2 separate regions of the Homo sapiens genome follow, and region 1 is reported to be linked to region 2. Evidence: microRNA targets listed by miRTarBase, many of them from high-throughput screens and not tested one by one. Region 2 holds a microRNA gene; the other region holds the end of a gene's coding sequence.
The links. Region 2 holds the annotated microRNA hsa-miR-8088 (CCUCGGUACUGGAAAGGGGUA, at 2,353-2,373, opposite strand). A microRNA usually pairs through its seed, bases 2 to 8, with sites in the 3' UTR of a target mRNA and lowers its output. Matches are read on the target gene's strand: a 7mer-m8 pairs with bases 2 to 8, a 7mer-A1 pairs with bases 2 to 7 and ends in A, and an 8mer does both.

Region 1 (4,346 bases), not on the chromosome of region 2:
TTGCTGGATAAGTAAATATTATGATATTTTAATGTATCACTGATCAGGCAGTTGGACTTAATTCAAGTTTGAATAATTGACTGTAATAACATTCAAGTCAAATACAGTAATGTACATATTTTATATAAAACATTGTAATTTTATGTAAAATAAAATATACCTAGGCTGGGTGTGATGATTCACACCTGTAATCCTAGTGCTTTGGGAGGCTTGAGGCAGAAGGATTGCTTAAGGCCAGGAGTTCAAGAACAGCCTAGGCAACATAGCAAGGCTCCTGTCTCTACAAACTAACTAAATAAAATAAATTAGCCAGGCATGGTGGTGTGTGCTTTTACTCCTAGCTACTTGGGAGGCTGAGGTGGGAAGATTGCTTGAGCCTAGGAATTCAAGACTACAGTGAGCTATGATCCCACCTCTGTACTCCAATATGGAAGACAAAACAAGACCGTATCTCTCTCTCTCTCTCTCTCTATATATATATATATGTGTGTGTGTATACGTATATATATACACACACACACACACACACACATGCACACTCCCTCTGTCCTGTGGCTCCTCTCTCAAGGAATTGCAATGTTCTTCACCCAGTGGATGGGGAAAGTGACATTGGAGAGCCCATCAGTTTCTTAACTGCCTTGCCTTGAAAGACATGCATCACTCCCACTAACATCCCCTGGGTAAGGGCTAGTGACATGCCCTGTCCTGATGCAGAAAGGAGCTGGGACACACAGCCTCTAAACAAGCAGCTGCTTCTCAGAGGCAACACTACTCCATGGAACGCATTGTCAAATCTGGTGAAACATCTGCCTTTAGTCAAATTCCCTTGGCCTCGGACTCCTCTTCTCTTCTTGACTATCCTCAAAATCCCACTCATCTTTGAAAGCTCGGCTCACAAGCCATCTTATGCACAAGGTCTTCCCAGATCTCTCTGCTGGGTACATTGTGCTTCCCCCTATACTTTGCTCATCCCTCCATATGGCCAGGAGCTACTTGTGGACGTGTGTGTCGTCCAGGATAGGGGGCACTTCTCAAGAGTGTGGACTGGAGATCATTTCTTTCTGTTTGTCCCACATCATCTAGAATAGCATTGCACACTCACACCAATATTCCCTCAGCTATTCTGAGAAGTGTTATGAGAATTTAAGCACTTGATTGTTAAGTATATGAAATTCCTCAGGACATATGATGTTGACCAATCAACAAGCATTTAATTGTCTGTTATGCAAACCCAGTTTCTGTATTTAGGAAGCTTATAATCTAATTTGGCAGGAAGTCAATAGAAGGTTAAATTGTAAGATTGCTGGCCAGGCATGGTGGCTCACGCCTGTAATCCCAGCACTTTGGGAGGCCAAGGCGGGCAGGTCACAAGGTCAGGAGTTCAAGACCATCCTGGCTAACACGGTGCAAACCCATCTCTACTAAAAATACAAAAAAAAAAAAAAATTAGCCAGGTGTAGTGGCAGGCGCCTGTAGTCCTAGCTACTTGGGAGGCTGAGACAGGAGAATGGCTTGAGCCCAGGAGGTGGAGCTTGCAGAGAGACGAGATCACGCCACCACAGGGAGAGACTCCGTCTCAAAAAAAAAAAAAAAAAAAAAAAACAGAAAGATTGCTAAACCGAGAATAACCCATTTTTAAAAATAAGGCCGGGCGTGGTGGCTCACACCTGTAATCCCAGCACTTTGGAAGGCAAAGGTGGGTGGATCCCTTGAGCTCAGGAGTTTGAAACCAGCCTGGGCAACATGGCAAACACTGTCTCTACAAAAAATACAAAAAATTAGCCTGGTGTGTTGACGCACGCCTGTAGTCCCAGCTACTTGTGAAGCTGAGGTGGGAGAATTGCTTGAGCCCAGGAGGCAGAGATTGCAGTGAGCCAACATCGCACCTCTGCACTCCAGTGTGGGTGACAGTGAGACCTGTCTCTAAATAAAGTAAATAAAACAAAAAAGAAGAAGACACTATTTAAACTATTGGGGTACTTATGACAAGACCTTCAGCAAACTTGTATTTAACAACCTGGAAACTGGCAACATCTGAGGACTGAAGCCCTGCTGTATGGACCACGTATACATCAGACATTGTCAGTGAGTAAATAATATACCTCAAAACATCTTTATATTTTTTTCAAATATGAACATTCTAATTTTATGAGTTATGAAAATCATTTAACTTTAACCATAAGGGATTTCTCCATAATTTACCTACAGGCCCCCAAAATGGGGATGAATAAACAGCATGTATTTTTTATATATATATAATATATGTATATATATATACATATGTGTGTGTGTGTATAACATACATGTGTGTATATTATATATATGCACACACATTATTTATATGTTTGTGTGTATGTGTGTGTATAGCTATACCCACATTACATAGTGACCATCTCTCTATAATACATAGTTTATTGCAAAGTAATATGGTATAATTATATTTCTATGTAGTGCAATGTCACAGCCTCTACTCATCTTAAAGGAGAATGCTCAAATGGGCTGTCCTTTTATACAATTCACTAGGTGTAACATTAATTATAAATATTTATATTAATTAATATTACCAATAAAGGAGCTACAAGTAGTGATAAATTATATTGGGAGGAGGAGGAGGGATGGTGGGAAGAGGTAGATGAAACATATCCTTATTTGTTACAGCAGGAAGTCAATAGTTAAATTACAAAATTGATAAACCAAGAAATAACTATGTACAATTATTATTGAAGAAAATCAACTACCAGAAACACTAAAACCAAATGATTAAAAGTGATTATCTCTGTGATCAGAACCATGTTTAGCCTCCTGTTCAATTAGATTTTTAAAACTATGTATTTATTTTTTATTTAAAAATAATGCAGTATAAATTAATAATTGTCTTACAATTTTGAACAAATGTTACTGAATTTATAATTACTATTTTGTCATTGCATATTTTCATTTATGAATATTAAAAATAAACACTATTATGTAAAGACCTAAAATTTTGGTGAAAAAGTGATTTTCATATTTGAAATATAGTGGGAGATAGAATAATAGAAAATGTAAAGAAAGACTATTAGTAAAATTGATGATTTTTCTTTTTTTCACTGTTTAAGAAATTTTTATTAAAGCAAGAATTTTATAATCCAAACCATGTTTCCTTGCTCAGTTATCAATTCTGTTACTTAAAACAGAATGGACATTTTGAGCTATTCCACAGTAAAGAATTAAAAAATTAAAGGAATGCTTTAAATTTTTGTACTTTGCTGAAAATTCTTTTCCCAGGGTCTACAAAACATTAACTGGTTTTTGTATTTTACGATTTTTTGTTTTTAAATCAAAATTAAGTAATCTTTTTTTTGTTTTTAAATCAATAAGTAATCTAGGACTAGCATTATATTTGCTAGACCTTGCATTTGCTCGGTACATAAGGTTCAAAGTTTCCTTTCCATTTTTTATTTTAGATTTTGCATTTTTTATTTTAGATTTTGCAATTTTTTTTCCCATAGTTTCTCGATGTTTAGATATTTTTCTTCGGTGAAGCACAAATTTCTTTTCGTGGTCTCTGATCAATTTTAAACAGTTGGAACACCGGTAGCACTGTTAACTGCTTTCTGGGTAGCCTCTTTAGCTTGGTGGGCTTGTAGTACAGCTACAGCTTCATCAACCTTAGAACGGAGTGACTCTGGAGACTCGAGCATATAAAGAAGTTCTGAATTATCAATCTCCAACAACATGCCAGTGATTTTCCCAGCAAGAGTAGGGTGCATGGCTTGAATAAGAGGAAAGAGCCGTTCACCTAACATTTGCTTTTGCTTTTGAGGAGGGGCAGATGCCAACCTGGAGGCAGTCAAAGTTTCCTGACCTTGTACATGAACAGCAAGCTGTTGCATTGTAACTTGTGGCTGTGCATTACGATGTTGCTGAGGATTGCGAACTCCCGCAGCATATTTATACCGTGGAACCGTGCGCACAGCAGGGGTAGCTGCAGCAGCAGCAGCAGCTGCAGGACGTGGACCCACTGTCTGTGTTGATGTGTTAGCAACACGCTGCGTTGACATGACTCGTGGAACCTGTGAAGAAGCTGGTCTCATAGTACTAAATGGTACTCTAGGAGCACCTGGGCGGATAGCACTGGGCTTATTTTGGAATGGATGAGGTCTGGCACCCTGAGCAGTCCAGCGAGGACTTGGTCTTAGTCGAGCAATTTGGCTAGGAGGATAGTATGCAGCATGGTTCTGAGTCTGTGGGACAGCTGTCATGAAGTAACCTGAAGGAGGTGCTCGCTGGTTGGGCACAGCTCGTACACTTGCCATTCTCTGCATATACTCGTTAGTGAGGTAAGCCTGGCGCTCTTCTTTGCGCTG
Region 2 (4,405 bases):
GTTCTTTATCAAGCTGAAGAAGTTCCCCTCTGTTTCTAGCTGTATTAGAGTTTTAATCATAAGTAGATGTTGGATTTTGTCTACACTTTTTCTGCATCTATTGATATGATCTTGTGATTTTTCTTTAGCCTGTTTCCTCACTGTATTTTATGGAGTGTACAATTGAATTGGAAGTTATAACAAGTTGGTGGTCTGAGTGCAATAGATTCTGCTTGGAGTTATAAGTCACTCAAATGATGATTTTATTGAAAATTAATGTGTTATTAAAAAGCGGCAGTGGAGGGCTTCACTGAAGACCAGAAATTATGAGCAACAATTGAAACATGGAAAAAAATATATAATCTGCTACAATACTAATATCTGTAGATGTAATGAGCATGGTCATGTGACTACTGACACTCCTACTCATCTTAATAGGTACAAATCCTTGGTCTTCTAAGGCACCACAAAAAGTAACACTGGAAATGAACATTACTGAGTATTTAGTATGTGCTGGGAACACTTTAATACCTTGATTTGTTTAATCTCCCAACAGTATCTTGTGAGGTAGATGACTCCAAAGCAAAAGACCACTTACTTGTGCTGCCTGCCTATTTTATACAGATCCCTCTGTAACATTGTCATTACCAAGGGAAGACCAGGGGTCTGAATCCTAGCTGAATCTATCATCCCTGCAGTGGTTGTTACCATTAAAAAGTCTGCACTGAAAGATCTCAGGCTTCCCTCTATTATGCCAATCACACAAATACCTTTATATCAGCAAAGAAACTCTCACAGACACTGCACAATCTTGTTTAAGTCCATCCATCCATCTCTCCATCCAGCCATGCATGCAATCATGACTCTATCCATCTATCCATCCAAGAAATATACTTTAAGAGCTTCAATAGGCCATACTCCATTAAAAAGCCTCAGCATCATTCTATAAGGCAGATCAACGGACTCTCTAAAGGGACCTTCTTCCTAATTTTAACACTATGGTTCTCTGTGACCTCCTCCGGGCCCGAATGCCACCTTTAGGCATTGTGTGACATGTTTATCACCAGCTCATAAATAAAAGCTTGCAGTTGCATGATGCTTTTAATGCATCTATTTGGCTGCCGAATCACTGGAATTCTCCTCACTGACCAACATCCGAGCACTAGAAAATATACAAATGATGTAAATGCCACATACCCACTTGAGTAGTGCTTCTTAACTCAATATGCATCACACAGCAGGAAGAATAATAACTAAAGTTTTGCTTGAAAAAGTACAATTTGGGGATGAATTCTCATATGTAGGTTAAGACTTCCGTGTATTGGACCACCATCTCTCCATCTATTCATTCATTTCCTAATATCAGTGAGTACATTTCCGTCCCTATTTATCTAGGTCTATCTTCTTTTTTGGACCTAAGCTACTATAAATGAAAAGCAACATGTTCAACCCACCTCTTACTCTGGTGTTCAAGAGTTGTCATTTCAGCATCCGCTGAACTCAAGAGCAACTACACAAGATAACAAAATCAGAAGAGCCAGCAATGTAATATTACAGTTTTTAGTTTTCATTTTATTTTTTTAATTTTCATTTTTATTTTAAGTTCTGGGGTACATGTACAGGATGTGCAGGTTCGTTACATAGGTAAACGTGTGACACGGTGGTTTGCTGCACCTATCAACCCATCACCTAGGTATTAAGCCTATGGTGATTCCTCACTGATCTAGAACCAGAAATACCATATGACCCAGCAATCCCATTACTGGGTATATACCAAAAGGAATATAAATCATTCTATTACAAAGATACATGCACGCGTATGTTCACTGCAGCACTATTATGACTTTTTAAAAGAAATGGGGCTTCATCTCTCAGGTGAGACAGATTTAGTATAGAGTTTACTCTAAATAAATAGTTGTGCATGAGGCTCTAACTGTAATGCAAATGTCAAAATCAGCCTTGAAAGAAAGGGTAGGTAATAATTTTTAAAAGACAAATCTTGCCTCTTCATCTTTCATGATCTACCATGTGCCTACATTCCCGCCTCATCCCAGGCGTCCCCAATGTACACATTTGGGACTTATGCCACAGTCACTGTGATCCTCTAGGGAGCAATGAGTGCTCCTGAGTACACATGTGTACACGTGTCTCTGCATGTTCAAGGACCCTTGTGACAAACACATCTATTGAGAGTCACGATTCCATGTCTGTGGGTGGCCTCCCTTGATACATCCTGTCTTAGTTTCCACTCCTTTGTTTGTTATTCTCTGGAGTCAGATGGATTAGGCTTCAGATTCTCAGGTAACCAACTATGGATCTGAGCTGAGTGACCCAGTGCCGATAAGAAGAATGTTGCCAAAACAACAGAATCCATACCCCTTTCCAGTACCGAGGCCCTCCTCCCTCCCCCTGCCTGCTTGGATCTCAGGTGAGAATGGGAATGTGATGTGGCTAAGAGTGAGGGGATAGATATGTGGTAGAGGGTTCGAGGAGAGAGGTGAAATCTTGGGGTCCCCACAGAAGGGACTAGGGGAGGGACCAGAGATGCCAAGAAAGCCTGCTCCTGGGCACTGAGACCCTAGGAGATGACTATGAAAGTGCAGTGGTTCTAACATGTGGTTCTATGAATTTCCCCAGCAGTACACAGAGCTGCGAACATTTTCTGACTCTAAGCTCCAGGGCTCAGACCATGGGAAATGAGGCCTGTGTTGGCAAAGGGCAGTGGAGCCTGGAATCACTAGTGGAGGGCAGCTGCAAGCCTTGAGGAGGCCCTGCTCACCTCAGCAATAACTCTCATCAGTAACTCCACTCTGTGTGTCTCTCTTCTGGTCTTCTCTTTCTGTGCTCTGTTGTCAGGGTCAATATATAGCAGGTTAAAATTGTCCTGGGTTAAAGGAGAAGAAGAGGCAAGGATGTCCCAATCCCCTCTTCCACTGACTGATAAGACAGTGGGCAGAGGGGGAGCTGGAAGAGATGGTATGCAGAGACCACAAATTAATTCGTGCTTCTCAGACCAGACGGGGGTCTGGTGCATTTACTTGCTAAGGCTGATTTGATTTTCATTATGAGTGCATAACCTCTGTACTGGACAGTAAGGTGAGAAAATACTGGAGTTATGTCTAATCTGGTGTCAGCTGATGCTATCATGTGAATGGTCCATTTGTATAAATGCTCAGCCTGTTTTGCTGAAAATGATCAGTCTCTCAGATTTCCACCCCACCTCCCTACTCCTTTCCAAGACGATTAATGGTGTGTATGGCTTTCGAGTCTTCATGGTGATATGGGAAGGGGCCTATGACATCTTATGTTGACTGCAGTGTCCTTAGTTGTTTATGAGGGAAGGCTCAATCTTCTCTCTCAGGTTCTGCTGACGATGCTGATTTGCTCACCCATTTCTCTGGCTGGTGTAACTTGCATTTTTGTCTCTCTCATTTTGGTCAGGATCTGGTGCTCCCTGGCTGACTCAGCCTCAGCCCACCTGTGCTGGCATCAGCAGACCCCTCTGAATCGGGGCCTCATCCTCCTTCCCACATCTGGGCAGGGCTGTCCATAGCACAGCCTCAGCTGCAGGGTCACCTAGCACCTATCTGGGTTATGCTTGCTTCATGGTAACACTCCTGGCTCTTGAATCAGCCACTTCCACATTCCCTTCTCAGAGAATGTAGCGCCCTGCAGGAACAAAGATCAGCTCCAAAAACTGAAATTCTTGAACTCCAGCCATTTCTCTAACCAAGGATCTTGCTATTTATTTCTGCAGAAGTAAACTGAGTCCTAAATTTCAGCTGGGCAAAAAATCTCTTTATTTGGGACTCCCTTCCACTTCTCTGACACACCTGTCACATGTAAGATAAGGCCCATAGAAGAGAGACTGTGATGAGAGTCTCTTACCTCCATCTGACACTGTCTCCATGCCTTCTACACCCCCAAGGCTGGAACAGAACACTCTTTTATTTTCTTTATCTTTCATGTTGACATAAGGATTCCCATAGTAAATCCAGATCATAAAGGGAAGTCTTTAGGATTTGTACTTTCTCTTGTAGAATTCAAATTCATTTGAAATGTTTGAAGGAAATTGACTAACAGATAAAGAAACTCAAAATGGAAGGGATTACCAAATACAAGTCAATACATCATCAGTAGCAGGGCAAGCTCTCTGTAAAAATAAACTTGGAGTTCAAAGGGAGTTGTATTAGTCAGGGTTCTCTAGAGGGACAAAACTAATAGAATATATATATATATATATATGTGTGTATATATATATATATGTGTATGTATATATATATATATGTGTATATATATATATATATATATATACACATATATATATGAGTTTATTAAGTAGTATTAACTCACACAATCACAAGGTCCCACAATAGGCCATCTGCAAGCTAAGGAGCAAGGAAGCCAGTCCAAGTCCCAAAGCTGA

Region 1: miRTarBase lists PABPC3 as a target of hsa-miR-8088. Seed matches in the 3' UTR shown: 7mer-m8 at 3,399-3,405.

Annotation. Positions count from the first base shown.
Region 1 is chr13:25,097,303-25,101,648 of GRCh38, reverse strand. It overlaps PABPC3 (poly(A) binding protein cytoplasmic 3), which reads right to left. Exons shown (of 1, transcript NM_030979.3): 1 at 2,395-4,346. The coding sequence ends at 3,555. The region is part of intron 1 of LOC124900613 (a long non-coding RNA gene); the gene reads right to left. Among named protein-coding and RNA genes, the nearest start is that of PABPC3, 3.3 kb to the right of the region's middle.
Region 2 is chrX:52,334,260-52,338,664 of GRCh38, forward strand. MIR8088 (microRNA 8088) reads right to left here and starts at 2,383; the gene lies at 2,298-2,383.